7 linked regions of the Homo sapiens genome follow. The protein of the gene in region 5 purifies or fractionates together with the protein of the main gene of each other region. This does not show direct contact. Each region holds a gene or a part of one and is shown on either strand. Other genes may lie near its edges.

Evidence for each region.
Region 1: the proteins of CD160 (region 5) and ARL15 purify together in Homo sapiens (affinity purification with mass spectrometry; one large-scale study listed by BioGRID and IntAct). This does not show direct contact.
Region 2: the proteins of CD160 (region 5) and TGFBR3 purify together in Homo sapiens (affinity purification with mass spectrometry; one large-scale study listed by BioGRID and IntAct). This does not show direct contact.
Region 3: the proteins of CD160 (region 5) and TTC17 purify together in Homo sapiens (affinity purification with mass spectrometry; one large-scale study listed by BioGRID and IntAct). This does not show direct contact.
Region 4: the proteins of CD160 (region 5) and CELSR3 purify together in Homo sapiens (affinity purification with mass spectrometry; one large-scale study listed by BioGRID and IntAct). This does not show direct contact.
Region 6: the proteins of CD160 (region 5) and FAT3 purify together in Homo sapiens (affinity purification with mass spectrometry; one large-scale study listed by BioGRID and IntAct). This does not show direct contact.
Region 7: the proteins of CD160 (region 5) and ITGA3 purify together in Homo sapiens (affinity purification with mass spectrometry; one large-scale study listed by BioGRID and IntAct). This does not show direct contact.

The regions. Positions count from the first base shown.
Region 1 is NC_000005.10:54,304,074-54,307,573, reverse strand, and holds part of ARL15 (ADP-ribosylation factor-like protein 15), read left to right. Parts: intron 1-3,500.
Region 2 is NC_000001.11:91,876,152-91,879,651, reverse strand, and holds part of TGFBR3 (transforming growth factor beta receptor type 3 isoform a precursor), read left to right. Parts: intron 1-3,500. UniProt on the Homo sapiens protein: Cell surface receptor that regulates diverse cellular processes including cell proliferation, differentiation, migration, and apoptosis.
Region 3 is NC_000011.10:43,357,761-43,361,719, reverse strand, and holds the start of TTC17 (tetratricopeptide repeat protein 17 isoform 1 precursor), read right to left. Parts: upstream 2,801-3,959; 5' UTR 2,766-2,800; coding exon 2,607-2,765; intron 1-2,606. UniProt on the Homo sapiens protein: Plays a role in primary ciliogenesis by modulating actin polymerization.
Region 4 is NC_000003.12:48,652,887-48,656,386, forward strand, and holds part of CELSR3 (cadherin EGF LAG seven-pass G-type receptor 3 precursor), read right to left. Parts: intron 3,480-3,500; coding exon 3,254-3,479; intron 2,966-3,253; coding exon 2,850-2,965; intron 2,509-2,849; coding exon 2,420-2,508; intron 2,316-2,419; coding exon 2,158-2,315; intron 1,567-2,157; coding exon 1,403-1,566; intron 1,118-1,402; coding exon 992-1,117; intron 903-991; coding exon 733-902; intron 302-732; coding exon 116-301; intron 1-115. UniProt on the Homo sapiens protein: Receptor that may have an important role in cell/cell signaling during nervous system formation.
Region 5 is NC_000001.11:145,718,062-145,722,298, forward strand, and holds the start of CD160 (CD160 antigen precursor), read left to right. Parts: upstream 1-1,437; 5' UTR 1,438-1,498; intron 1,499-4,237.
Region 6 is NC_000011.10:92,231,318-92,234,817, forward strand, and holds part of FAT3 (protocadherin Fat 3 isoform 1 precursor), read left to right. Parts: intron 1-3,500.
Region 7 is NC_000017.11:50,069,610-50,073,109, forward strand, and holds part of ITGA3 (integrin alpha-3 preproprotein), read left to right. Parts: intron 1-1,234; coding exon 1,235-1,321; intron 1,322-1,701; coding exon 1,702-1,909; intron 1,910-2,376; coding exon 2,377-2,573; intron 2,574-3,500.

The sequences.
Region 1 (3,500 bases), on a different chromosome or scaffold from region 5:
AAACAAATGTTCTCAGAAGTGACAGTCAAGGTGAGGGACAGGGATAGTACTTTAATATTTAAGACAGGGTTTTATTGATTTCAGTCGAGAGAAAGAATAGAAATTTGCTAATCCTAATCAATTAGATGTATCACCTGGTGCGGTGCCTGACTTGGTTTCTGGCATGTATTAATAGTTAGGGCCCGATATTTTATTTGTTGAATCAGATGAATATGAAATGGAAAGGAAAATTCTGCTTTTTTTCACCAGTTTTTAAACTGAGACAAGATAAAATCTGTTTGGATTAGGTGTTTTGTTCAGGGGAATGCAGAATGTATCCTTTACTCTTAACTTGAAGATGATCAAGATATAATCCTTTTAGCCAGGGTGGCAATTTAAACATAAAAATCTCTGTTTTCCAGTTGATGAGTGAATCTTCCTAGAAGGGCACACAACTTTTCCCCTTTCCATGATGGGGTTTAAAGGCCATGTTTACATCTGCCAAGTCTCTGGGTAAACATTTAGCTGCTGTCCCAACAGGCAGTACCAGCATCTTACTCTTTCTTCTCATAGGTAGAACTAGTAACACAATGTGCAGAGCTTTTTGGATAAGGTAGGAGAAAATAGTCAGGTTAAAATGAAAGAGAAAAACACATTTCTCGAGTTTTCCTGGGAGGTTGGACAAGATCAACTTCTAGATTCCTTTCAGTTCAAAATTTTCTGTCTTGACTCATGTGATGATTGATCTGGAATTAACCTTTTTTCCCTCTGCGCCATCAAAACAACAGTGGTAGAATTGGTTGTACTCTGTGTAATACCTATGATGATTAAATGAGATAGTGGAGGGAAAGCCATTTGTAAACAGTACGTTGCTTTTCAAATATAAAATGTTAACGTATTGTGTGGCTGGGCGAGGTGGCTCACGCCCGTAATCCCAGGACTTTGGGAGGGCAAGACAGGCGGATCACTTGAGGTCAGGAGTTTGAGACCAGCCTGGCTGACATGGAGAAACCCCATCTCCACTTAAAATAGAAAAATTAGCTGGGTGTCGTGGCGCATGCCTGTAATCTCAGCTACTTGGGAGGCTGAGGCAGGAGAATCGCTTGAACCCAGGAGGCAGAGGTTGCAGTGAGATCGCACAACTGCACTCCAGCCTGGGCGACAGAGTGAGACTCCGTCTCAAGACAAAAAAAAAAAAAAAAAGTTAACGTATTGTGATTATGTTGCTGATGTTACTTTTATACCTCCTGTAGAATGACTGTTACTGCTTAGTGGTATTGAAATACCTTTTAAACTAGTCTCAATTTATGGAAATACTGGGAGTTGTAATCAACAAGCAGGAAGTCACAAGACTCTTTTAAGAATCTTTTAAAAGCTACGAAAATAAAACCCATTTGAATAATTTATCTATTCAACAAATATTTATGGAGCCCTTACTTTCTGCATGGCCCTGAAAGTCATGCGGGATGAACCCTCAGCTGTAATATCCTCCTTGACTGCAGGACTGGCAGTCGTGTGGCTCTAGAGGAACCTGTGGCAGGACAGGTTAAGTAAGGCACATAGGGGAGGGGGTAGCTTCTGATGTGCTTCTTTGCTTTCTAGTACATTTCTCTCATTTTGTGTGTTTTATTGTGAACTAAAATATAAACTTAGACTTGAAAATGTGACAAGTAAAAATGGTTGATTAGTCTTGGATGCTAATTGTCAATTAATATTCATTGCATTTGTTTATAGTAGCCTCCACCCTCCCATCCACGGTTTTACTTTTCAAGGTTTCAGTTAACCATGGTCCACCGAGGTCTCAAAATAAGTGAGTAAAGTACAATAAGATATTTTAAGAGAGAGAGAGACCACATTCATATAACTTTTATTACTGTATATTGTTATCATTGTTCACTTTTATTATTAGTTATTATTAATCACTTACTATGCCTAATTTACACATTAAACTTTATCATAGGTGTGTGTGTATAGGAAAAAATATAGTGTGCTCTGTGCTATGTTAGTTAGTTCTATGATAGCTCAGTACTATCTGTGGTTTTAGGTATCCACTGGGACTTGGAATATATCCCCCATGGATGAGGGGAAACTACTGTACCGTGTTGGGGATTTTTTATTTATTTATTTTTTTTTTGTGACAGAGTTTTGCTCTTGTCATGCAGGCTGGAGTGCAATGGGGTGATTCTCCTGTCTCAGCCTCCTAAGTAGCTGGGATTACAGGTGCCCACCACCATGCCCAGCTAATTTTTGTATGTTTAGTAGAGACGGGGTTTCACCATGTTGGCCAGGCTGGTCTCAAACTCCTGACCTCAGGTGATCCACCTGCCTCGACCTCCCAAAGTGCTGGGATTACAGGAGTGAGCCACCGTGCCCTGCCAGTGTTTGGGATTTAATAAGATTAGATTTGATAGGTTAGTTTAATAAGATTTCTTTGTATAGACTGGTGGACTTGACCTATTTAGTTTCTTGGTTATAGGCTGTATCTGCCATCATAAAAATGTATGTCTCAGTGGGGAAGATGTGGTGAGAGAATTGGGTTGATCATCACAAATCTGTCACCATTTGCAGGATAAAAACCAGCTAACTAACCAACAATAGAAACCCATGATGTGCTACAAAGGGTAGAGCCCACAGGCACTATGAAATTGTAAAGGATCCTACTTGAAAAGAGGAGTGAAGGTACATTTGTGATTTCATATTATGTTCAGTTATCTGTGAACTGAACTTCTTTATTGATAAAAAAAAAAGTACATTGTTTCGTTGTTTTTAACCCTGAATATCTATGAACATTGTAAGTTGTATTTATTGTGACTAACTTTAAAGTGATAATGTAGGTCACTTTTTAGTCTAAATGTCGAGTGGATTAGGCAGTCATATTAAATATTCCTTTCTTAATAATTTATAAGATAAAAATTATCTGAGCACAATAAACAGATCTACCATATATGGAGTTCATATAGCAAAAATGTTTTGAGCAAATCCGTACCATTAGGTAGGAACTTTTCTACAAAGGTGTTAAGTCTGGTTCCCAAACTTCTGTGGCTCCAGTCTAACAGTATGAGCCCTAGGAGAGGACACATAGGGACCTTGATTCATGCCCTCCAGGGGCTTGCATTCTGAAAGATGCCAAAGCCACATGCTTGTTGGCATGTGGGCAGTGCTCAGGTCGGGGGTGAGAGGAGATAAGTATATGAGTTATAATCAGGAGGGCAAAATCAGTTAACATTTATTGAACACTTACTCTGTGCCAGTGTTCTAAGTGCTTTGCATGTGTAATAGCATTAAACTGAGGCTCAGGGAGGTTGTGTAATTTCCTCAAGTTCACACAGCTAGCAAGTAGTTGAACTGCGCTTGTGGCCCCAGGGCCCTCCCTCTTCATTGCCTTCCACCTACAAGTAGTTCCCTTGTGCTAGGCAGAGGCTCAGGCAGCTTGGTGTTAAGGCAGTTGGGATGCACTCAAAATTTTTAGTATATTGCTTCTTAAGTAAACAGGTACAGAAAAGTGGTCCTTGACCACTACT
Region 2 (3,500 bases), about 54 Mb from region 5:
GTTTTTGAAACAACATTGATATAAATTCTGCATGAGGCTACTGTCATTTGGAACTTATTCTTCATTTTTTATTCTTCAGTTTTTCAGGCCAAAGATGAAGACTTAATAGGCTGACAACTGCTTATGAGGGATAGAGACCATATTTAAAATGGAAGGTCTAGAACAAGAGCCCCAGAACCATGCCTTCAGGCCATCCTAATGTGCCCTGCTGAAGATAATTTTTTGGTGTCGGGGGGCAGGGCAGGGAGCCTAATGTCTGGTTTTTGTGGTGGTGGTTCTTTTATGTTGAAATCTTCTTCCATCCTGGGAAGAGGATTCAGTTATATGTAGAGCCTAGCAAAGTTGATTTTTAGAATTAGATTTTAATGGTTATTTTTTTTTTTGAGACAGAGTCTTGCTCTGTTGCTTAGGCTGGAGTGCAGTGGTGTGATCTTGGCTCACTGCAACCTCTGCCTCCTGGGTTCAAGCGATTATTGTGCCTCAGCCTCCCAAGTAACTGGGATTACAGGCGGGGGCCACCACATCTGGCTAATTTTTGTATTTTTAGTAGAGACAGGGTTTTGCCATGTTGTCCAGGCTGGTCTCGAACTTCTGGCCTCAAGTGATCTTTCCCCCTCAGCCTCCCAAAGTGCAGGGATTACAGGCGTGAGCCACCATGCCCGCAAGCCCACTTTAATGTTAAACTGTTGCCAAGATAATTTAGAATTAAGTCTGAAATGTTAGCTCTATCTTTACTTAAAAAATGGTTATAAAGAAGCGTATACTTTCTGGACATTGGACTCCTAGTGAAGGGGGCCTTTGGAGTTGGGTGTTGTTTGCAGGAGGACGAAACACCTGCTTTTCTGTCCTTCCAGGCACATAATTCATTTCTCTGGTATATGCCGAAGGTCAGGTTTTTTGTGTAAAATTGCTGATGGATCATTTGTAAAAACACATTTAAGTTGATTAGTCCTTGAAAAATGATCTTTAGAAAATGATCTTTACAGATACTAGTCCTTGAGCTTTCCTGTGGATCAGATTGCCTTGGGCGAAGGTCTGCAGTTTCACAAGCATGACTCACTACCTTTTATAGGTGAGAACATCAAATGGGCCAGGTGGAGGGTCTAGTAGAACTCTGGATTTCTTTTTAAATTTGTATCATACTATTTTGCTAATGGAAACTTGATGAATACTTAATTCCATCTGGCAAGTGAAAAGGGTCCCTTTTGGGAGTATTCGTTTTGTTAGCATTTTTAGTGATTTATTGTTTTGACAGTGTGATATTGGTCCTTGGATGCAAAAATACTCTGGAGACTATTTGGAAATTTCATTTTATAATTAACTAACTGTGTGATAATTGCTGGAGCAGAATGTGTGTTTTTTTTTTTTTTCTTTTCATTCTGGAAGGTTATTTGAGGTGAAAAACTTAGATTCTAATCACAAAGGCTTGTGTTCATGTGGTACCCTGAGTACTTTTGTAAGATACTCACTGTGTTGCTGTGAGTTATCTCTTTTATGGTTTTTTCTTTAAAACAAAACTCTTCTGAGTCTCCATAAAGAATAAGTATCTCATTTTGTTATATTAGATTTTGTGCAGTTGGCTGGCAAATTAAATTTAACTTTGAGGGAAAGCACCATTGACTCATTACATACATTTTGCATCATTGCAGCGTAAGGTCTTCCCTATGTGTGTGGGAGAAGTTTCTGATCTAAATGGGCATGTTTCCTATTGCTGGTCTATCTTTTAGCCAAAGCATTTCTGAATAGACATTCCTATTCATTTTCTTATTTTCGAGACTTTAGAGAGATTGCTACTTGTTATGTATTCGTGATAAATCATCTGAATCCTGAAAAAAATACTTATGCCAACAGCCCATTTTGTAAAGACACTTGTCTTTGAGCTTTTAAGCTGTCATACTCATTATTCGTTACAATAGCTGTACAGCCATTGGATGTATCATGTTTTTGACACAGGAGCTAGGGGAAGGATGACCTACTTGTTGCATTTCACATTTTTCCATATTTATATCTTTTTTCAATTTGTGGCATCTTTATTTCATTGTTAGAGTGGTTGTTCTCTAAGACGTTCCAGGTTTTAATTTCATTCACTGTGTGGGCTAAATAAGGAGCTTTCCTGTAGAACCAATTCTACTAAATTCCTGAAAATGTCAGTTAAAAATTAGCCAGGCATGGTGGTGTGTGCCTGTAGTCCCAGCTTCTCAGGAGGCTGAGGCAGGAGGATGGCTTGAGCCAGGAGGTCGAGGCTGCAGTGAGTCATGATCATACCACTGCACTCCAGCCTGGGTGACAGAGTGAGACCTTGTCCCTACCCCCACCACACACACAAAAAAAGAAAATATGAAGAAAAAAGAAAATGCTTCCAAAAAGTATCCCATCTAGATACCATGCTGGTTAGGGCTTTTGGTCATGTTTGAATGGGACATAGCTGAACACAGAGCAGGATTTCAATGGGTAGGCTAGGAAAAGGAGAGGAGTGTCTAATTTGTTGGGAGAAAATCCACTTTTGCATAATAATAGGGGATTTACGTGTTTTCTTTGGAGTTAATATGTATTTCAAGTAGGTAGATAGGTAAGAGGTTTGCAAAAAAATTTTGCTAAGGTTGAGGTTCTGTAGTTGGCAACTCTTATAACCCTGAAGATCCTGTTCTCTAAAGCCAGGAAAAAGCAGTCTGTTTCCAATTATGTATCACAAAAAATAGTGAAATTAAGCCAAGAAAAATGATCATTTGGGAGTTGGGTTGCTTTTTTTTTTGCAGAGGGTAAAGGAGAAAGGACTGTAGACACACATTTTAAAGAATCTGCTAGTTTTTCTGTTGGCTTTCAGATTTTTCTCAAATGCTCTGTATTGGAAATTAAGAATAATTTTAGGATTAAAGGCCTTTTCCTCCTTCGGCTTCTTTTTGTTTCTCAGAGAGCAAATAGAAGAGCATTTAGGCAGTTTTTGCTGACATGAAAGGGTTTGGGTCCAGTGTTCCGGGACCCAGCTTGTGTTTTTGGTAAAGCCTTTTCCTGCCTGAATGGTCCCAGGTTATGGGCTCACAGCATCATACCTGGTAGTGGTGCTATGGTTTTTGTTATATGAATTTTTTTACCATGCTTTGAACTGAAATGTAGTCCCTGCTGCCTAGCATTATTCTGCTGGAGGAGAAAACTAGGGATGTTAGTGTGGGAAAGGTATGGAGGTGCGAAGCCTAGCATTTGGATGATGTGTGGGTGAATATATTGTCCTCAGCACTTGTCAGAAGCAACTAGCCTTTCGGGATGCCTACTGCTAGTTTCAGGATTAGTGGTCCTGTGAGACCTAGGTGTTAACTAAGAAATCTCCTTTCCACTGCCAGAAGATCAGCCCCGGCAGGTCTTAGTTCCTGTTTCTCACACCTTACACCTCCACAGAGTGTTGAATAAGACTTTCCTGATGCTGCATAATCTTTGATAACTCTTAGTCTTGTCACTGAGGCTAATGTGTTTTAGCTCTTGGTGCTTTTCTTCTCACCTCCCAT
Region 3 (3,959 bases), on a different chromosome or scaffold from region 5:
TTGGTATGTCAGGACAAAGTATACAGATGGTCCCCACCTTTCGATGGTTCAACTTATAATTTCTTGACTTTACAATGCTGCAAAAGTGACATGCATTTGGTAGCAACTGTACTGAGTGCCCATATAACCATTCTGTTTTTCACTTTCAGTGAAGTATTCATGAATTACATGAGGTATTTTGATACTTTATTGTAAAAGATGCTGTTAGATGATTTTGCCCAAATTTGGCTAATGTAAGTATTGTGAGCACGTTTAAGGTAGGTTAGGCTAAGCTACAATGTTTGGTAGGTACATTAAATGCATTTTTGACTTACAGTATTTTCGACTTACAATGAGTTTATCAGCACATAACCCCTTCATAAGCTGAGGAGCATCTGTATATACTAAGCTTTTAATTATGTTTCTGAATGTACAAATCTGCAATATATATGGATTTCATACACTAATGTGATCTTTCAAGTCCTTAAGTACAGTATATACAAATATTATAATTAATCACGATCTAAATTGATAGTTTGGATTCTACCTGCATACAAATTATGGCCAGGAAGGGAAGCATGGGTCATGCACAATCAGCTATCAGAGTGGAACTCGGCAGCTCACCACAGCACCCAATTCTTTTACTTTATTTATATGTGGTGCCTTTTCTTCAGATTAAATCCAACTTTCCTCCCCTGGCCTCTTATTGTTACACTGCAGACACCAACCTTATTTCTTCTGGCATAAAATCTTGTGGCTGCCTGAACATAACATTGTAAATGTTATGTATAGCAAAGTATTGGAAAATTCAATGAAAAGGATCACTTAAAAAGTCATGTAATAGAGAAATCTTGCTTTTTAAACTTTAAGCCTAATTACTTAGCTCAGCAGTGACTTGGCAGAGATCCAAAAGATTCTTCAGCTCTTCCCTGCTTCTCTGAGGCAAGTTTCCAGTAACCCCTGCCTTCCCCCATTAATACATATGTATCCAAAGTGCAAAAAGAAGGAATTTGTTAAAAAAAAAAAAAAAATCAGACTCTACTTTCCCATTGCAATGTTAAGTATATACATAAAACATTTCTACCAGCTTTCACTTTTTAGATGGGCTACTTTTTCAGCTGAGTGGTAGGACACCAAAATGGGAAGGAGAAGTCAATGTCATAGAGTATAAATAGCTGTGGCCAAAAACAATATTGCAGAAGAGCCAACAGGAGAAAGGCTCCCCAAAATGCAGCAGGAGTGACTTAATTCCACGTCTTCATAGAGACCTCAGGGAAAACCACTATCAAGAAACAAAAGAAGGGTGGAAGCAACCAGCACTCACATATGGTCTTACAGTGTTTTCTTGGGTTTCTGAAACACATACACATATATTTAAAGTCTCAGATAGTATGGCAATGAAAAGGAAACTGTTCTTTATGTATGTCATATAGAAAACGTTACCCAATAGGAACACGGTCTTTTCTTAGATATGCTGAAAACCACTCATGAATACCTAGGCGGATTTTTAGTTATACTTAACTTACTTGAGATAGAATTTGCAATTACATTACACGGCAAATCTAAATCTAAACCTCACCTTAAACGTTGGAATGTGTTCCTATCATGATTCATTACACACAATCCAAAGGACCAGTAATTTCCCACCACACTAGTTAAAACGTTTTAGATCAGTGGGCTAAATTGCATGGGGCACACAATTCACTTTCTAAATGTTTGCTAGACACTTCAAGATTGTCCTCAAGTGTTCGAAGTCAGTAAGTTTACCAATATTCTGTAGCGGAACACACACACGCACTCGTTAGGCATCAGCAGCATTTACAAAACGCAGGCAATCATAAAGTTATATAAGAAAAGCAGTCTCGCCTCTGAGGAATTAGTTCAGGCATACAAGAATCCAGGAAATCGCATATCCTCCATGCGAGGCTGGGTCACAAGAACTAGGTAAAGAAACAAAGCAAAGTGCACTGGGAAACGAGGGCAGTAACAGCTGAAAAGATGCAGGCAACGCCACCAGCGGCATCTTCAAGCATTCCTTCTGAAGGGGAGTGTTTCTATGTTGTTTCTAATGAGCCACTGCTGACCTGAGTAACGGTACAAGCTGAAACCAACACAACCAGAAACGAAATCCACCATGTGGTAGACGAGACTAGGGGAGCAGCACGAATGGTCCACAGGCTAGGGGTCCAGAAGCTGTCATACCATGGGACTCGCGCACACCCTGGAGCTGCCACCTGCTTTCTATTTCCTCGGGGAGGGCCGGTGACGCGTGAACCCGAGAGGCACCAAAGGCAGGAATCCTGAAATCTGTGATTTCTAAACCCCGAGCTAAAAAAAGGTCCGTAGGGCCCGTCTCCCGCAGCTGGGCGACTCTTCCCCACGCGGCGCGCGGCCCGCGAGGTGGAAGGGTGAGAACTTCTAGGGGGCCAAACGAGGACCAGGAGACAAGTGGGGAGCGGGAAGTGCCTGCCTGGTCCGAATGCAGGGAGTCCGAGGTCGCGGTGCCACCTCCCTGTGAGGGTAGGCTGGGGGCGGGGCCGCGCGGAGCCCAACAGCCAGGGGCCAAGCAGGGTAATCCCCCCGGGGCGAGGGCGGGCACGGGAGAAGAGGGACGCCCCGGCCGCTACCTGCTGCTGGATTTTCCCGTCCTCCGTGACGACCCAGTGCGTGGTGGCGAAGGCCCCTCGTGCCGCCACACTCAGCAAGGCGGAAAGGCTGAGGAGCCAGCCTGGGCCGGAGCAAGGCGGCAGCTCGTACCGGCCACGAACCCCTACTGCCGCCGCCATCTTGCCCCCCCGGCCGGGCCGCTCACACCGGAAGCGGAAGCTAGTCTCCGGCGCCCGCCATCTTGAAGAGGTCGGCCCTGGAGGAGGAGCAGGAGGAGGAGCCGAGAGGGCGTAGCTCGCTGACTACCAAGTTTCCTCCACCTCGGTTTTGGCGGCCAGGAAGCGCGACCTTCGGCTACTCTCCCAGCTTGGCTTCAGGGATGGAGACCGCTTTTTAGTTATTGTTTTTCTGTGGGTGATACGATCTCGGAGCGTGGGAACCGGAGGGAGACAAAAGCAGTGGCTTAGGTGGCGCTTAAGCAGAAGTGAAAGGACTCAATTTTATTGTTTTTTAAATCTTTGTTTTTTCGTTTTATTTCTGGTAGATAGTTGGGGAACAAAAGGTGTGCTTTCGAACCACCTATGGGAAGAGAGGTGTTGCTTTTATTCTTAAAGTCTCACAATAGTGGAAGCTTCAGAATGGAGACGGTTGTTAGTTTAGGGCACCGCTGTCCAGTAGCACTATAATGCGAGCCACGTGTGGAATGTAAAATATAGAGGGAAGTAACCCTACTAGTACATTTTATTTAACTCAAAGTACACAAAATATTAATTCAATGTGGTCTGTACAAATCATTGAGATAGTTTAGTTTTTTTTTTTTTAACTAAGTCTTGGAAATCGGCATGTTACACTGACAGCTTATCTAGTCATATTTCAGGGGCTTAATACCCGCATGTGGCTAACGTACTGGTCAGCACAGGTCTAAGCTAGAGGTCTAGGTCTGGAGACCAGAAACATTGGCATCACCTGGGAGCTTTTTAGACCTGCACATTCTCGGCTCTTCTCCCTCTCCCCCGCAACCTGCTGAATCAGACTACATTTTAACAATAGCCTCAGGTGACTGGTATACATATTAAAGTTTGAGAACCACTTTCTTCTAGTGAACCAACAGGCAGGCAGGCAGGCGTCAAGCTTGGCTGCCAGCTTCTTGCTAGATATGTCATTTTAGGTCTTTCAAGATTGCCCTCTGTGTGTGTTATTTAAGGTTGGTATGCTTTTGGTTTTCTCCTTGGGAAAAGAAGGATGAGAATATTGTTTAACCACTTCTCTACACAAGTGTATGCAGGAGAGCAGTTGCTAAGTGTTTAAACACCACGCTATAGAAATGTAGAAACAACCACAGCATTGGTGTTTTTTTTTTCTTCATTCCAGGA
Region 4 (3,500 bases), on a different chromosome or scaffold from region 5:
CATCAGACTCAGTGCAGTGGAGGGAACTGAGAGGAGCTGGACTAGAGGTGGGGTCAAATAAGGCGGATCTGGTTGGAAGGCTGAGAACAGACTACCCCGGGGTCAGAGGCCAGACCTGGAAGAGGCTAAAGTCCAGTGAGACCATAAGGACATGGTGGCCCCGCCGGCCACCTGGTTCCTCCTGCAACTCCAGCCGCAGATCGTGCCACCGGCCATCACTGACAGTCACCTGGTCCAGAAGGAGATGGGAAGCACGGCCCGAGCCCCTGGTCACTGTCACAGACAGTAACCCCCGATCTAGCTGTGGGCAGAGATGCATAGCCCTGGGGTTAGAGCCCCATGTGGGCTGGGACTTGGAGGTGAGATCAGAGGGCTCAGAGGTCAGGAATATCAGAGGTCAGAACAGTGGGGTCAAGGTTATACCTGGCACAAAGGGCACTGTGCCAGGGGACATCATGTTGCTGATATGGGGTCAGGGGGCAGAGGATAGGACCAGGTGTTGTGGGTGGGTTGGTGCAGCTTGCATAAGAGAGAGCTATGCTGGAGCCCTGCACCTGCAGAGGATATAATGATGGAAAGAGAATCAAGGGCTAGGGTCCAGAGCAGGGTCAAGTGTGGTTGGGACACCTGGCAGAAAAGTATGCTGTGTGACCAACCTGAACCCACAAGAATGTCAGTGGCGGCCTAAGAGACTGAGAACTGAGGGTATAGGGGTGAGCAGGGTGGACACACCTGGCAAAGGAGCGTGCTGTGTGGCCCAGCCTGCACTTGCATCAGGACCCCCTGCGTTGCCCGTGTCCGAAATGCCAGCCCCAGGTACCATGGCACAGACACAGCCATGTCACTTCCAAAGTTCCAGCTCAGTGTGCCGTTGCCACGGAAATGGTGGGGATGGGCCATAGCTGAGTGGATAAGAGAAACAGGGTTACAGCCCCTGCCCCAGGAACAGATCTGACCCTGCAGGCCCCTCTGCCCCATGCTGCCCACTTACTAAGCTGACAGTCTTTGCCGCCGAAGCCCACAGGGCAGTCGCAGCTGAAGCTGCCCCAGCGCTCCGAGCAGAAGCCACTGTTCTTGCAGGGGCCTGAGTCACAAAAGTGTAGCTTGGCTTGGCAGCCTGGGAGAGGAAAGCACATGGCGGACATGAGAACAAGGGTTGGGGGGCACAAGTGCTGGACAGGACTTTAGTGTCCAGAGGGGCTGAAAGAGACCAAGATCTCAGCCCCATTTCCCATTTTCTTTCGATGAGTGGGGTTGGTAAGAGTCAGGCCCTAAAATCTGGGCTGTAGCATGGTGCTTGCCACCAAAGGAGACTGGCTTGAAGTCAGGTATGGAGTCCTCCACTTCCTCCCTATGATGGGGACAGGGCCATGGGCTAGGCTGGTGGAAGCTTCAGGCCTACCTGCCATGGTGCCATTATTTGCGACAAAAGCCGCCATGTCCACTCGGCGGCCATCAATGTGCAGGTCCCGCATACAGCCGATGAAGTCCTTATGGGATACGGGGAAGTTCTCGGGGAGGTTGGGGACACCTCCCAGAAGAAGAGGGCCCGTCAGGTCCAGGGACCTGGGGATCAGGGGTCTGGGTCATTGGTGGGACTGGGGCCAGAGTAGAGTTGCTCCTGGGGGGCCACAGGAAGCAGGGGGGTAGGACCCAGAGGGTAGGGTGATTGAGGGAGGAAAATAAGGCCGAGCTGTGGAAGGAGTTAGGATCTTACTTCAGTTGGGGTGCAAAGGGGCACCCGTGATGGGCCGATGGTCTGGGGAAAGGTAGGTGAATGGGGGTTGAGAGCTATGATGAAAGAATGAGGCATCTGGCTGGCTGGGGAGGGGATGGAGACGTGAAGACTCTGGGGGACTGGACATGAGATGAAGGGACTCGGAGGGGATGTGGGACATTAGTGAGACTGGGGTGGGGAGGTGGAGGCTTTGGAGGACTGCCTGGGGACTGTGTGTGGGAGGAGGGAGTATGGGGTGGAATACAGGATTGGGGGCTAGGGTGAGTAGGCTTTCAGGGTCTTTGAGAGGAGAGGGGAATCTTGGTGGTTTGGGGGAAAGATGGGAGAGTTTGGCAGGATGGGATGAGGAATGGGATGTGAAGGGTTGGAGTGGGCTTTGGTAGGCAGGGGACAAGGGGACTAGGGGGCAGGGGCCTCACTTCTTGGAGCTTGTTTGCACACCAGCAGCCGCGCATGAGTAGTTGCCAATCTCAGCACCAAACTGCAGAGCCACGGCCACATCACAATCATCCACGCTTAGCACAGCCACCTTGTCCTTGGAGGGGCCCTGTGCACCCCCTAGGGCATCTGTCCGGGGCTGAAGACGCAGGCACACCAGTCAACAGTGCCCCCAGTAACCCCTGAGGAGCAGAAGTCAGCATCCCAACTCCCCTCATACCCGATGCCAGGGATGGCCCCCACCTTGTTGTAGTATCTCAGATGCACTGTATGCCATTGCCCGTCACTCAAGCCCCCTGGAACTGTGGGGCTGACCACGGTGTTGGATTCACCTGGAGGGGAGATGCATGTGGAATCATCAGGAGCAGCGGAGTCGCCCCATCCCACCCGTCATATAAGCACAACCATTCCCAGGGCCACCCTGGATGCATCAGATCAGTCCCCCCACTGGTGACCACAATGGCTGGCTCAGAGTGCCTTTGAACAGACAGGAGAAACAGACTTCTTGGAGGGAGGGACCTTCCCACAGGGAATGGCCAAGGAGCTAGGTCTTCAGGGCTTGCATGGCGTGGAGTGTGTGCTCAGGTGCACAGTGAAGCAAACCTGAGGGGACTTGGGCCCTGCGTCCTCCAGCACACACGCACCCTTTCGCCGTCACATCCGGGGCACCCACCCGTGGAATATGTGAGCCGCACTTGGCCAGCCACGAGTTCCAGGGCCAGGAAGTCGTGCTTCTCGTTCAGGCGCCCGTTGTAGAAGAGCAGCCCGCTCTGCTGCACTGTCGCGAACCTGGGCGGGGTGGGAGGGGGTTGCGGGGGTGGGAGCGTCAGGAGCAGGGTACCACTTCACACCCACCATCCCTGCGAGGAGAAGGGGCTGGGGCGAGAGAGGAAGCGACGAGGGACGGCGGGACCGACCGGGGGGACGCGGGTGCAGCGAGGTCAGGAGACCCCGGGCGGGGCGTCAGGGGAGGGGCGGTGTCTCATGGGGATGCCAGGACGGGGCAGTCAGGAATCTGAGTCAGGGCGGGTAGGTGGGGGCGGCGGGGAGGCGCTCAGACACGGGGCGGGCACCTACGAGAGGGACAGCGTAAGGTGGAATCGCTGCCGCAGGCCGCGAAACATGACGAACGAACTGGGCGGGAAGGAGCGCGCAGCCACCTCGCAGCGCGGGCCCTCGAAGGCGCCGCCTGCCGGGCACTGGCAGCGAAAGCCGCCGTTGGGCGCGTCGGTGCAGGTGCCCCCGTTGCGGCAGACGCCCGGCACGCAGCGGCCGGCCTCGGTGTCCAGCTCGCAGTCCTCTCCTGGGGGCCAAGCCGCGGTCA
Region 5 (4,237 bases):
CCCAGCCTTGCAGGACTTAGAGCCCAATGCTTCTAATTCTCAGACTAATGTTCCTGCCATCTAAGGGCACAACCCTAGAATTTAGGAACAATTGTAATCTCCCAAGCCATCACTGACCAAGGAAGAACAGAACAGAATAGAAATGGATGGGAAGCTGGGAGTGGTGGTTCAGGCCTGTAATCCCAGCACTTTGGGAGGCCAAGGCCAGAGGATTGTTTGAGCCCAGGAGTTCAAGAGCAGGCGGGGCAGCATAGGGAGACCTCATCCATACAAATCATTTTTAAAATTATCAACCGAGCGTGGTGGCTCACGCCTGTAATCCCAGCACTTTGGGAGGCCAAGGCAGGCAGATCACTTGAGGTCAGGAGTTTGAGACCAGCCTGGCCAACATGATGAAACTGTCTCTACTAAAAATACAAGAATTAGTCCAGCATGGTGGCAGGCTCTCGTAATCCCAGCTACTCAGAAGGTTGAGGCAGGAGCATCACTTGAGCCCAGGAGGCAGAGGTTACAGTGAGCTGAGATCACGCCACTGTACTCCAGCCTGTGTGACACAGCGAAACTCCATCTCTAAATAAATAAATAAATAAATAAATAAATAAATAAATAAATAATAAATAAATAAAAAGTTATCCAGGTGTGGTGGCGTACACCTGTGGTCCTAGCTGCTTGAGGGGCTGAGGTGGGAAGATCACTCGACCCCAGGAGGTCAAGGTTGCAGTGAGCCATGATTGCCCCACTGCACTCCAGCCTTGGTGACAGAGCAAGACCCTGTCTCAAAAAAAAAAAAAAAAAAAGGAAAGAAAGAAAAAAGAAAAAGAAAAAAAATGGGTGGGTGGGAAGATAAGGTCAGTCATTCATCCTCCCCCCACCACATCAGGACCATTTTGGTGCCCCCACTCGTTGCCTCCCCTGCTCACCACCACCCTCACCCAAGCCTTCTTGACAGCTCCCTGACCTTCTTCCCTTTCAGCCTGGAGCAGCTGTGTTCTCTGTCCTACTTCTAACCAAAACCTACTCTCAGGAGAAGACTTGGTACCTTTCTTTATACTTGAGAGGACATTCTGTCCTTTTATCTTCTAGTTATTCTATCATCAGTCCTTTCCTTATTATGAATTAGCAAATACAAAATCTTTGTTCCCCAGGGTAAAGAAAAGAATTTTAAGAAGTGGTTTTTCTTAGCCCCCTCAGCACCCTAGTCTATTTCTAACACCAAAAAGACAAAACAAGGGAGAGGAAAGGAGAAGGAGATGGAGGACCAGTTGCAGGAGAGAAAGGAGAAAAAAATCCACAGTGGGGGTGGCGGAAGATCTATGACTTCTAACAACCCATTCTGTGGTTTTCAAAGAGCGAATATAATAACAGCTATGAAAGTGTGAGCAATGACGAAACTGGAGAGATAGGGTTTTAACAAGATGCAAGGACAATCTGAGGACTGAGAGCCATTTCAACGTGAGCCCCCAGTCTGAGAACAAGAAAGAAGAACTTCTGTCTCGAGGTAAAAAGGCCTGCTGGGGACCTGGGGTCCAGGTGAAGGGATGGGATGGTTGACAGAACTGCTCAGGTGAGGACAGGCTTCTCATGAGGTCCCTGAGAAACTTGCCTTTTGGAGGGAAATGTCCTCTGCCCTCTGGAGCCTGGGGAGAAGGTTATTTCTGCCCGCCAGACCAGCATGCTCGCTTTTCTTCCATGGGCATTCAGGAATCCTGGCCCCATTCTGACATTCCTCAAATGGAGGAATTCCTCAAATTACCAGAGGAAAGTTACCAAAGTTTAGATCTGCTGGAGCTCTTCAAGGATTGGCCTGAGACAAGCCGGGAGGTGCCACGGGGCTTGGAGCTGGCCCTGTGAGGCACCTCCGGGGGAAGTTCATGTCCTAGGTGGTTCACGTCATGGACCTCTTGGAGGTCCGTGAATAGATTTATTCATGGGATTTGTGAATTGGGGGGAAAAATACATCTTTATTTTCACTAATCTTTAATTGAAAGTCAGCACTTGCTTCAGTTATGAATGTAGACAATGAACCACAATAGAATTTGCCATCAATAGAAAACACAAATATTTTCAAATCTCATTACAGTTTTTATAGATTTCTCCAAATGTCCTTAACGCTCAGCACTACTACAGAATTACAACAGTTATTAGGCTGATGTCAAATCTAAAGAAGCATGTGTACTGCTCTACCACACATTCTTCTAATGTTTTGACAACTGTCTTGTCATAATTTGTTCCCTTTATTATCCCATGTATCTTATTAATTTTTAAATGTTGTTCTGAGAAGGGACTCCATATGCCTTCCCAGACCACCAAAGAGGTCCATGGCGCCTTTATGTCAGGCACCTGCTTTGGTGTGTTGAGCAGGAAGCCTGAGATCTCAGACAAGAGCTTCAAGGGCCCCCCAGCCCAAACCTCTGTCTACTAACAAGTCTGGTTCTACTTTAAGGCAGTTGGGGTTGTGGAGATTGAAAAAGAAGCCCCTTCACAGCTGCAAATGAGATCTTTCTGGGCATCTTTTTCAGTGTCGTGGGAGATCTGTATACAGAGGTATTTGTGGAGCTCAGAGCTGACCTTCCAGCTCCTCTGAGAGGTTAGATCCGGGCTCCGGTGGCAGAGGAAATGGAGACTCTTCCTTGCCCTCTTGTCCCCACCCTCCCCAGAAAACCTCTGGCAAAGCTTTATGTGTCATCTAACCGTCACCACATTCCTATGAGGTAGTTTTAAACACAAGAGGAATGTGAGGCTGAGTGAGGTCCAGCAATGTGCTGGTCACACAAAGCTTGGATTTGAACCCAGGAGTCCACAAGACTCCAGGACCGCCTCCGAAGGTGCGGGAGGGAAGAGTTTCCCGCCGTCTGTGAGCTGTCGCCTGAGAGAGGCACCGAGCCCTGGGGCCACCAGCGCAGCTCAGGAGCCCCGGGGACCATCAAAGATGAGGATGCCAACTCCACGGGCACCCTCCCCCCTGCCCGCGCTGGGGCTCACAACGTTTTAAGAGGGGAGACCCGCCCCTGGCGTGTAGTGGGCCCGGAAAATTCCCAGACTTCTCACGACCACCCGCTCTCCCCTCTGTTGAGGGCCAGGTGCCGCTCTAGTACATGCTGCGTCCCCAGGACCCACCAGGCCCAACTTTGCACCCCCTCATCTCCCCTCCTAGTTTAGACTTTCCCTGGCTAGCCCCCATGCTCGCTGGATGGCCCATGGCTGGAGTGACGCGGGCCAACGCGGGGCAGGTAGGGGGTCACTCGGCTTTGGCTGAAAGGCAGCGCCCTCTAGCGGCCAGAGTGCGAAATCAGCGCCGCCGGCTCCGCGCTGCCCCGCCTGCATCACAACAGGGTGCTCCCCTCCCGGGCACCAAGGTCACTTCCCAGAGCATCCTTGCCCAGTGACCTCGCTGCCCCCCAGCGCTGGTGAGGGGCCCACAACAGACTTACATGCTCTTCTTCAACTCGGCCCTAGGCACCGCGAAGTCTGGCCACTCCAGCGGAGTGACCAGCTGCATCAGCCCCTCCCGCCTGTCCTCTCTCTCCTTGGAAGCGGTCCCTACCCTGCGCCCCTCCCATCCCGCTGCACCAGTCCCTTAGGAAACACGCCTAGAGAAGGGACACGACCTTGTCAACATTCCACAGCTACCTAGTGCGGAGCCAGGACTGGAAGCCAGATCTCCTCAGCCCATTCCCCACCTTAATTCACCCACCGTATTCTTTAGTCACCAGCTCCCGAGAGCCCACAAACAACTATGAAGGCCTAACTTCATTGCCATCTTGCAGCCTTTCCACATCCCTCATCCAGAATTTCTCCTGTGCTGCCCCTTGACACTTTATGACCTTATTACTTAGTACAGTCGTTCTTGTGTTAACAGCTGTTCGTGAATGGATGAGCGGCTGTGAGGAGAGGGACAAAGGGGACTCCAAGAGAAAGACTCTCATAACTTGGGTTAGAGTCCTGCTCCCCAACTTAGGAGCTGTGATTTTAAGCAAGTCACAAGTCCCCTCCAAGCCTCTATATGCTTCGTACAAATAATAAATTTTAGAAAATAATAATGGCTTAGTGTTTTATAAGGACTAAACACAGTCTTGCAGGTAGATGTGCCTGGAACACTGTCCATTGATTCCAATATAAGAAAGCATAAAACTAATCATAGCTATCATTTATTGAGCCCTTACTCTCTGCCAGGCACTGTGCTAAGTAATTTACATAGGTGACCTCATTTGACCCTCACAACCCAAGGAAGAGAATA
Region 6 (3,500 bases), on a different chromosome or scaffold from region 5:
AAAAAATTTGTAAAAAATGGCTTACAAAGTAACATTAGCTTCCAGAATGTGAGTGAAAAGGCAGACTTTTACCTTGGACGTTCTCTATGACTTGATCCTACTTGTACTTTTCAGAGCAGTTGCAAATAATATTTCAGTTAATTCTTTCTTTCTTTTCTTTTTTGAGATGTTGGAGATAAGCCCAGCTGTTGAATGAGGCACAGTTATGAAAGGTTAAGTGGAAGTTTAATTGTAACTTCAGGACTTCAACTAAATTAAATTCCAAACAATCTGAAAAAAATTGTAGCCTTTTCAGTACCATGGAAGGTCAAAAAGTGAGCACTCTGGAGCAGCTATTGATGTTTTATATTTTGAGATAAGCCCCAAATTATTAATGCTACTAAATATCATTGAACATTATTTGATAATTGTAAACATCTAAGAGTATGCCAGATGACACAGATTAAATTTAGTGACAAATGTGCTTAATGACAGTATAAATATCAGGGTTTTTTTTTTTTGTCAGATAAATTCTATGTAAGTCTGTGTGTGTTTTCTTTCAAAGCAAAATGAGGCTATATCTTGGTAGCAGGATCAGCTTGGTCTTTTTTGAAACCTAGAGCATTTATCACACATGACATTTTGTTGATTTTTTAAGTCTATGTGATCAATATTTTGGACCTCTGAAATCTATTTTTGATTGTGGTTTGAAATTCTCTGTTGGTTCTAAGTGGTGGCTTAATGATAGCAGTTGCTGTTGTGATTGGGTGAGCAGTGTGTTATGTGATTCATGTGGTACCGTCCCATGCTAGGGTGGATTTTGCAGCTAGGGTTTTCTCAGATTGGCCTGGCTATGGAGAACTTCACTGCAAAGAAATGTACACATGAAAGTGGGCCAAATGCAGATGACTTTAACATCGCCCATGTTATGGATAGAATGGGGTGTGAATCTTTCCCACACTTTCCACTTAAAAAAAAAACCTTTGCTAATAACAGTTTCAATCAAATGAATAAGAATTCAGAAGTGTGTGGTAATCTCTCTTGAGAATTTGGTACCTATCTGATAGGACTGTAAAGGCATTTCAGAATGTCAATTAAATGGAAAAATATGCCTGGAATTGAATATAATTAAGAAATGTTGAAGTCTGGTGTCTACATATTCAGACACTGTATAAGATGGTTTAATTAGTGAACAAGGATTTGGATTTATTGACAGAAGGTCTCTTTCTCATGGCATGTTTCACTCATTAAAAGCTCATAATGTCTTGGATCTTTTTAGCTGTTGGAACTTGACCATTTGTCATTTTGTGCTTCTTGACTTCAGTGATGTCGTTTTTTTTTTTTTTTTTTTTTTTTTTGTTTAACTGTGCAACTGATTAGGATGATGTTGCTTCTCTCATTGATGATTATTTCCATGGAGTGGACGCATGGTGTCTTGTAAACATTATGAAGCATCACCAAAGCACTAGGCAAAACTCAGTACCTCTGAAAAACAACAATTGGGAGGTAGAATTATTATTGTGGAATTTTTGGCCTAGCAACTTAGAAGTAATTAGAGTAACTTCCTCTTTATAACTACTAGCTTTATATTATATTTACCTGATGGCAGAATTTACATTTAAATTCACATTTCTCTACATCTCTCTCAGTTTTTCAGTTAATGGTTTATTAGTTTAAATCCTTTTTATTCCTGACTGTTGGGCTGAAACAGTTTCTAATCATACAGAAGACTGAAATTCTTTTTTAATATTCTTGTTGTTGGATATATTTCTTTTTGAACTGCATTTGATGATTATAAGTGCCTGAAAGAACTGCAGTTAGTAAAGAGAGAACTTGGGAATGTTGACAAGTGAGGTAGGGAGAAACATGGTTCAGTTAGTCCTTGAGGATTTTTCATTACCTGTTTATAACTTAGATTTTGGCTGTCTCCTATACTGGTACTAATGTGAACAGCTACTTTATAAGATTTTTTAATTCCTCATCTTCATAGGTATGTTCTCTAAGTCAGAGCTATTTAAAGTAATCTAGCGTTCCATCTTTCCTGTAGACATAGCAGATCATTCACAGTCTGGTTGAACTAAGTACACATTACATCGTTGGTCGTTTTGGTGGCATGTGCTGGGTTCTTCAGGCCCGTGTCATTGTTGGCAAAGTATACTAAGAGTGCTACTATTATCTTGGACTAATTTTTTCATGGAGCATATTAAATAAATGTGGTGTCTGACCCTTCAAAAGTTAGCTTCCTCACCTGAGTGATGTTCAGCTAAATAGGTATAAGTCGTAATGTATGTGTGATCCTAAGTCAGTAAGATGGTGAACTGAAGTGACATCATCTGCTTGGAAGTCCCTGGATTAACAATGGGACTTATATTTATATTCAGAAGACAACTGCTACAATGAGGAAATTGGGCAATCTAGGCAATTGAACAATTGAATGGGAAATGTAAGACAAAACATATTATATTGCCAGATCAATTCCCTAGATCTTGTTGAATTATACGATAATTAGATAATCTTCTTTTATTTGGAAGTGTACATTTTGTAAGTGTAATAACTTGCAATAATCACTTTATTCCTAAGTTGTATTCAGCAGTGCACATGTTGTGTTCAGTTTACATTCTGCATATTTTTGTTAAATAGGTAGTATTAATAACATATTTTACCTCATATCCAAAGAGAAAGAGGGAGATGCAGGTATTTTGAGATTTATCACTTTCATACAGCTCATCAGTGGTTACTATAATAATCCAAGTGAATAAACCTAGATTGTTCTTTATACAATAGATATGTTTTTAAACATTGAGTGTAAATGACATTTTTCAAAACAAATCACATCTTAAATGCTTTCAACTAGGGAAAATACACTCTTTATTTAAACAGATGTGGCAAATTATTTTTATAAAGTAAATAACAATTTGTCTCTCTTACATTTATCTGTTTTTTAAGTTTAGATTTTGTATATTAAATTTCTCAAAGAGATGCAAGAGTGTATACATATTGGAAATACGTTTTTGTTCAAATATATAATAAAATGAAAGAGTTTGACCTTCTCCCTCAGTACTGCTTTGACGAGAAGTGGCATCAGAGGGGAAAATAAAGGGAGAAGATGGAACTAGAATGAGAAAAAACAGAAATGTCCACCTAGTTTATGGAGATGTTGAGGAAATGTTAAAGTTTAAGAATTTCTGGGCCAGGAGTGGTGGCTCACGCCTGTAATCCCAGCACTTTGGGAGGCTGAGGCAGGCAGATCACCTGAGGTCAGCAGTTCGAGACCTGCCTGGCCAACATATAGTGAAACTCCGTCTCTACTAAAAAATACAAAAATTGCCAGGCACGGTGGCTCATGCCTGTAATCCCAGCATTTTGGGAGGCCGAGACCAGTGGATCACAAGGTCAGGAGTTCAAGATCAGCCTGACCAACATGGTGAAACCGTATCTCTACTAAAAATATAAAAATTAGCCAGGTGTGGTGGTGGGTGCCTGTAATCCCAGCTACTCAGGAGACTGAGACAGGAGAATCT
Region 7 (3,500 bases), on a different chromosome or scaffold from region 5:
GAGCTGCGATTGTGCCACTGTCCTCCAGCCTGAGCAGCAGAGCAAGACCTTATCTCAAAAAACTAAATAAATATCGCTACTTTCTCTCTTTCTCTTATCAAAAGTCATGGGCACTTTTTCATGTTGATATATATAGGACCATCATTTTAGAGGATGAAGGGTATTTTCTTGTAAAAGACCATGCTTGTAAAAGACCACACTACACATGGTCTCACAGGGGGTGTCTGACAGCTTATACTCCCTCCATCTCTTTGCCTCCCTCCATCACACAGGTTGTAGCAATAGGGACCCCTTTTCCCTTACTGAACCTTTATTGTTGTAGAATCAGCAGGCAGAGGAGCCTTGAATCTCCTCTTGACCAACATGTAGCCCCAGGCATAGTCACAGCTCTGGGCTCACCGAAGGCTGAGGCCTCTGCCCCCTCTTCTGGTCCTGCCTCCCACCCCCTGGTCATGTAGCACCTTGGCAAAGTCACAGATACTCTCCAGCAGCAGCCCTGGGTGCAGGGTCCAGCTAGGCAGCCCGAGTTTGGGGTCAGGACCAGAAAGAGATAATGGTGTGGAGTCTGACCTCAGTGTCTAGAGAGTGGGGAAAGCCATCTAGCATCTAATATCCAGGAGCCTGAGTGATTAAGTTCTAGCCATGGCTCTACAACCAGCTCCCCATGGGACTATGAGCAAGTCAACTTCCCTCCTGAGCCTCACTTATCTGCAAAATGGGGGTCATAATTTAACCTCAAATAATTGTTATAATAGGCCAGGCACAGTGGCTGACACCTGTAATCCCAGCACTTTGGGAGGCCAAGGCAGATGGATCACTTGAGGCCAGGAGTTTGAGACCAGCCTGGCCAACATGGTGAAACCTTGTCTCTACTGAAAATACAAAAATTAGCCGGGCATGGTGGCGCATGCCTGTAATCCCAGCTACTCGGGAGGCTGAGGCAGGAGAATCGCTTGAACCCAGGAAGCGGAGGTTGCAGTGAGGCAAGATCACACCATTGCACTCCAGCCTGGGCAACAAGAGCAAGACTGTCTCAAAAAAAAAAAAAAAAAAAAAAAAGGAAAAAAGAATTGTTAAAGAGGATGTGTTTTATAAATGGCAAAATGCTCACCAATAAAAGGGGTTATTACTATCCTTGTTGGGTGGGGGTGGGGGTGGGCTGGACATGGTAGAGGAAACCAGAAACCGGTGGTGACTTATACTCCCTACTCTCCCTCCCTCAATCCCTGTGAAGGAAACAGCTACATGATTCAGCGCAAGGAGTGGGACTTATCTGAGTATAGTTACAAGGACCCAGAGGACCAAGGAAACCTCTATATTGGTGAGTACAGTAGTGGTAGCCCATCAAGTGGTAGAGGGGAAGGGGGCTTAGTCCCTGGTGGAAAGGTGAGGCCAGAGTGCAGTTGTGACTAATGGCATTTAGTTAAACTAGCACACACGGATTGGCCGGCACCTGTATGCCAGGCCCTGTTCCAAGCTCCCAAGATGCAAAGTTCTTGACTTCAGGATGCTCACAGTCCAGTGTCCAGGCAGAACTGGGCCATGGCTGCTGGCCATCTGGAGTCTACTTTCTTGCCCTACTTGGAATAGTGGGATAGAACATCATGGTGGGGGGCAAGAGAGGGAATAGGGAGATGGGTCCAGAGTAGAAAGAGACGAAGTTGACTGGGACCTTGGTTGAACATCTTCCCTCTATCCCAGGGTACACGATGCAGGTAGGCAGCTTCATCCTGCACCCCAAAAACATCACCATTGTGACAGGTGCCCCACGGCACCGACATATGGGCGCGGTGTTCTTGCTGAGCCAGGAGGCAGGCGGAGACCTGCGGAGGAGGCAGGTGCTGGAGGGCTCGCAGGTGGGCGCCTATTTTGGCAGCGCCATTGCCCTGGCAGACCTGAACAATGATGGGTGAGAATCTAGGGACATCCTCTGGGGCCAGGGAGAGCGATGGGCGGGGGAAGGCTTACCTAAGCCAGGTGAGGGGAGTGGAGGATTTGCAGTTGTGCGGCTGTCTGCATGTTGTTTGCAGAGGTTTGCAGTCAGGCTTTATGGGAGTCTGAGCACCTGCACATGGCATTTGTGGGACCCCTGCGTTTGCTTGTTTCTGCTTGGGATTTGTATGCTCCAGTGGATGTGGATTGTTTGGGTTTGATTTGTGCCTGCATGGCGTCTCCATGACATATGTCTTCTATTTGGTGGGTCATATTGGCATCTCCATGTCCTTCCCATGCACATGTCCTTCCCACCCATGACCTGTGGCCGGAAGAGCCATTTGCAGAGCCCTGTGCCCTGGCACAGTCACACCTGTCAAACAAGAACTATGCTGCATATTGGAGGCTGACCTCACACTCCCATTTCCCTCCTCTCCTGTGTAGGTGGCAGGACCTCCTGGTGGGCGCCCCCTACTACTTCGAGAGGAAAGAGGAAGTAGGGGGTGCCATCTATGTCTTCATGAACCAGGCGGGAACCTCCTTCCCTGCTCACCCCTCACTCCTTCTTCATGGCCCCAGTGGCTCTGCCTTTGGTTTATCTGTGGCCAGCATTGGTGACATCAACCAGGATGGATTTCAGGGTATGAGCCAGCACTCCTCCCCCAGCACCCCTCCTCCAGCACCCCTCCTCCCAGCACCCCTACTGACTGAGCACCAGCTGCACATCAGGCTTGACAGGGCCCACAGATGAGACAGGATGGGGCCGGACCTGGGGAGCTCGCAGCAGTACTAGAGAGAGGATGTGCAGATGTGCAGAGGAAGCACAGAGGCAAGCTCAGTGGGCCTCCTGGAGGAGCTTGCATGCCACTGTGCAGCCAAGGCTGGGCTGAGAGTGCACAGTAGAGAACTGATGGGGCACAACATGGGTGTGGAAACTGGCCTGGTGTGCCCAAATCTAGCGGGTGTAGAGTGTTCACATCAGAGAGGAGGCTGGAGGGGGAGTGGGGTGGGGTGGGGTGAGGATGGATGCTTTGAAAGCCAGGCAGAGTATCTTAGGGATTTATATTTGGGTAATGGTGATGGTGGGGTCATGGGGCATCCAGAGAAAGTTTTAGGGCAGGGATGTGATATAATAACTTTGTACCCTGAAGGATGATTCTGGAAGGGGTATGGAATGAGTGATTGCAGGGATGGAGCAAGGCCAGGGGAGTTAAGATCAAGAATGTAATATCTCAGGTGGGAGATGATAAGGAATGGGACAAGGTGGGAGCCCTGGATATAGGGGTCCTCATAAGTGTTCTGCAGGACTTGGGGACCAATCGGACCTGGGGTATCAGGGACAGGGGCAGACCCAGGGCTGGAGTCAGTGCCATGGGGGCACCTGGCTTATCTGAAAGTCACTTCTCTGATAATCTCAGTTTCCCAGGACATAGCTGAGAACCAAGAGGAAGGCAAAGGAGCCTCTGAAGACCCAAAATAGGTGCCAGAAAGTTCAGTCACCAGAGGCCAAGTGTGCACTGTGGAAATCATTTGGTTTCGGCCTGGGACCTGCTTCTGCTCCCTTTACA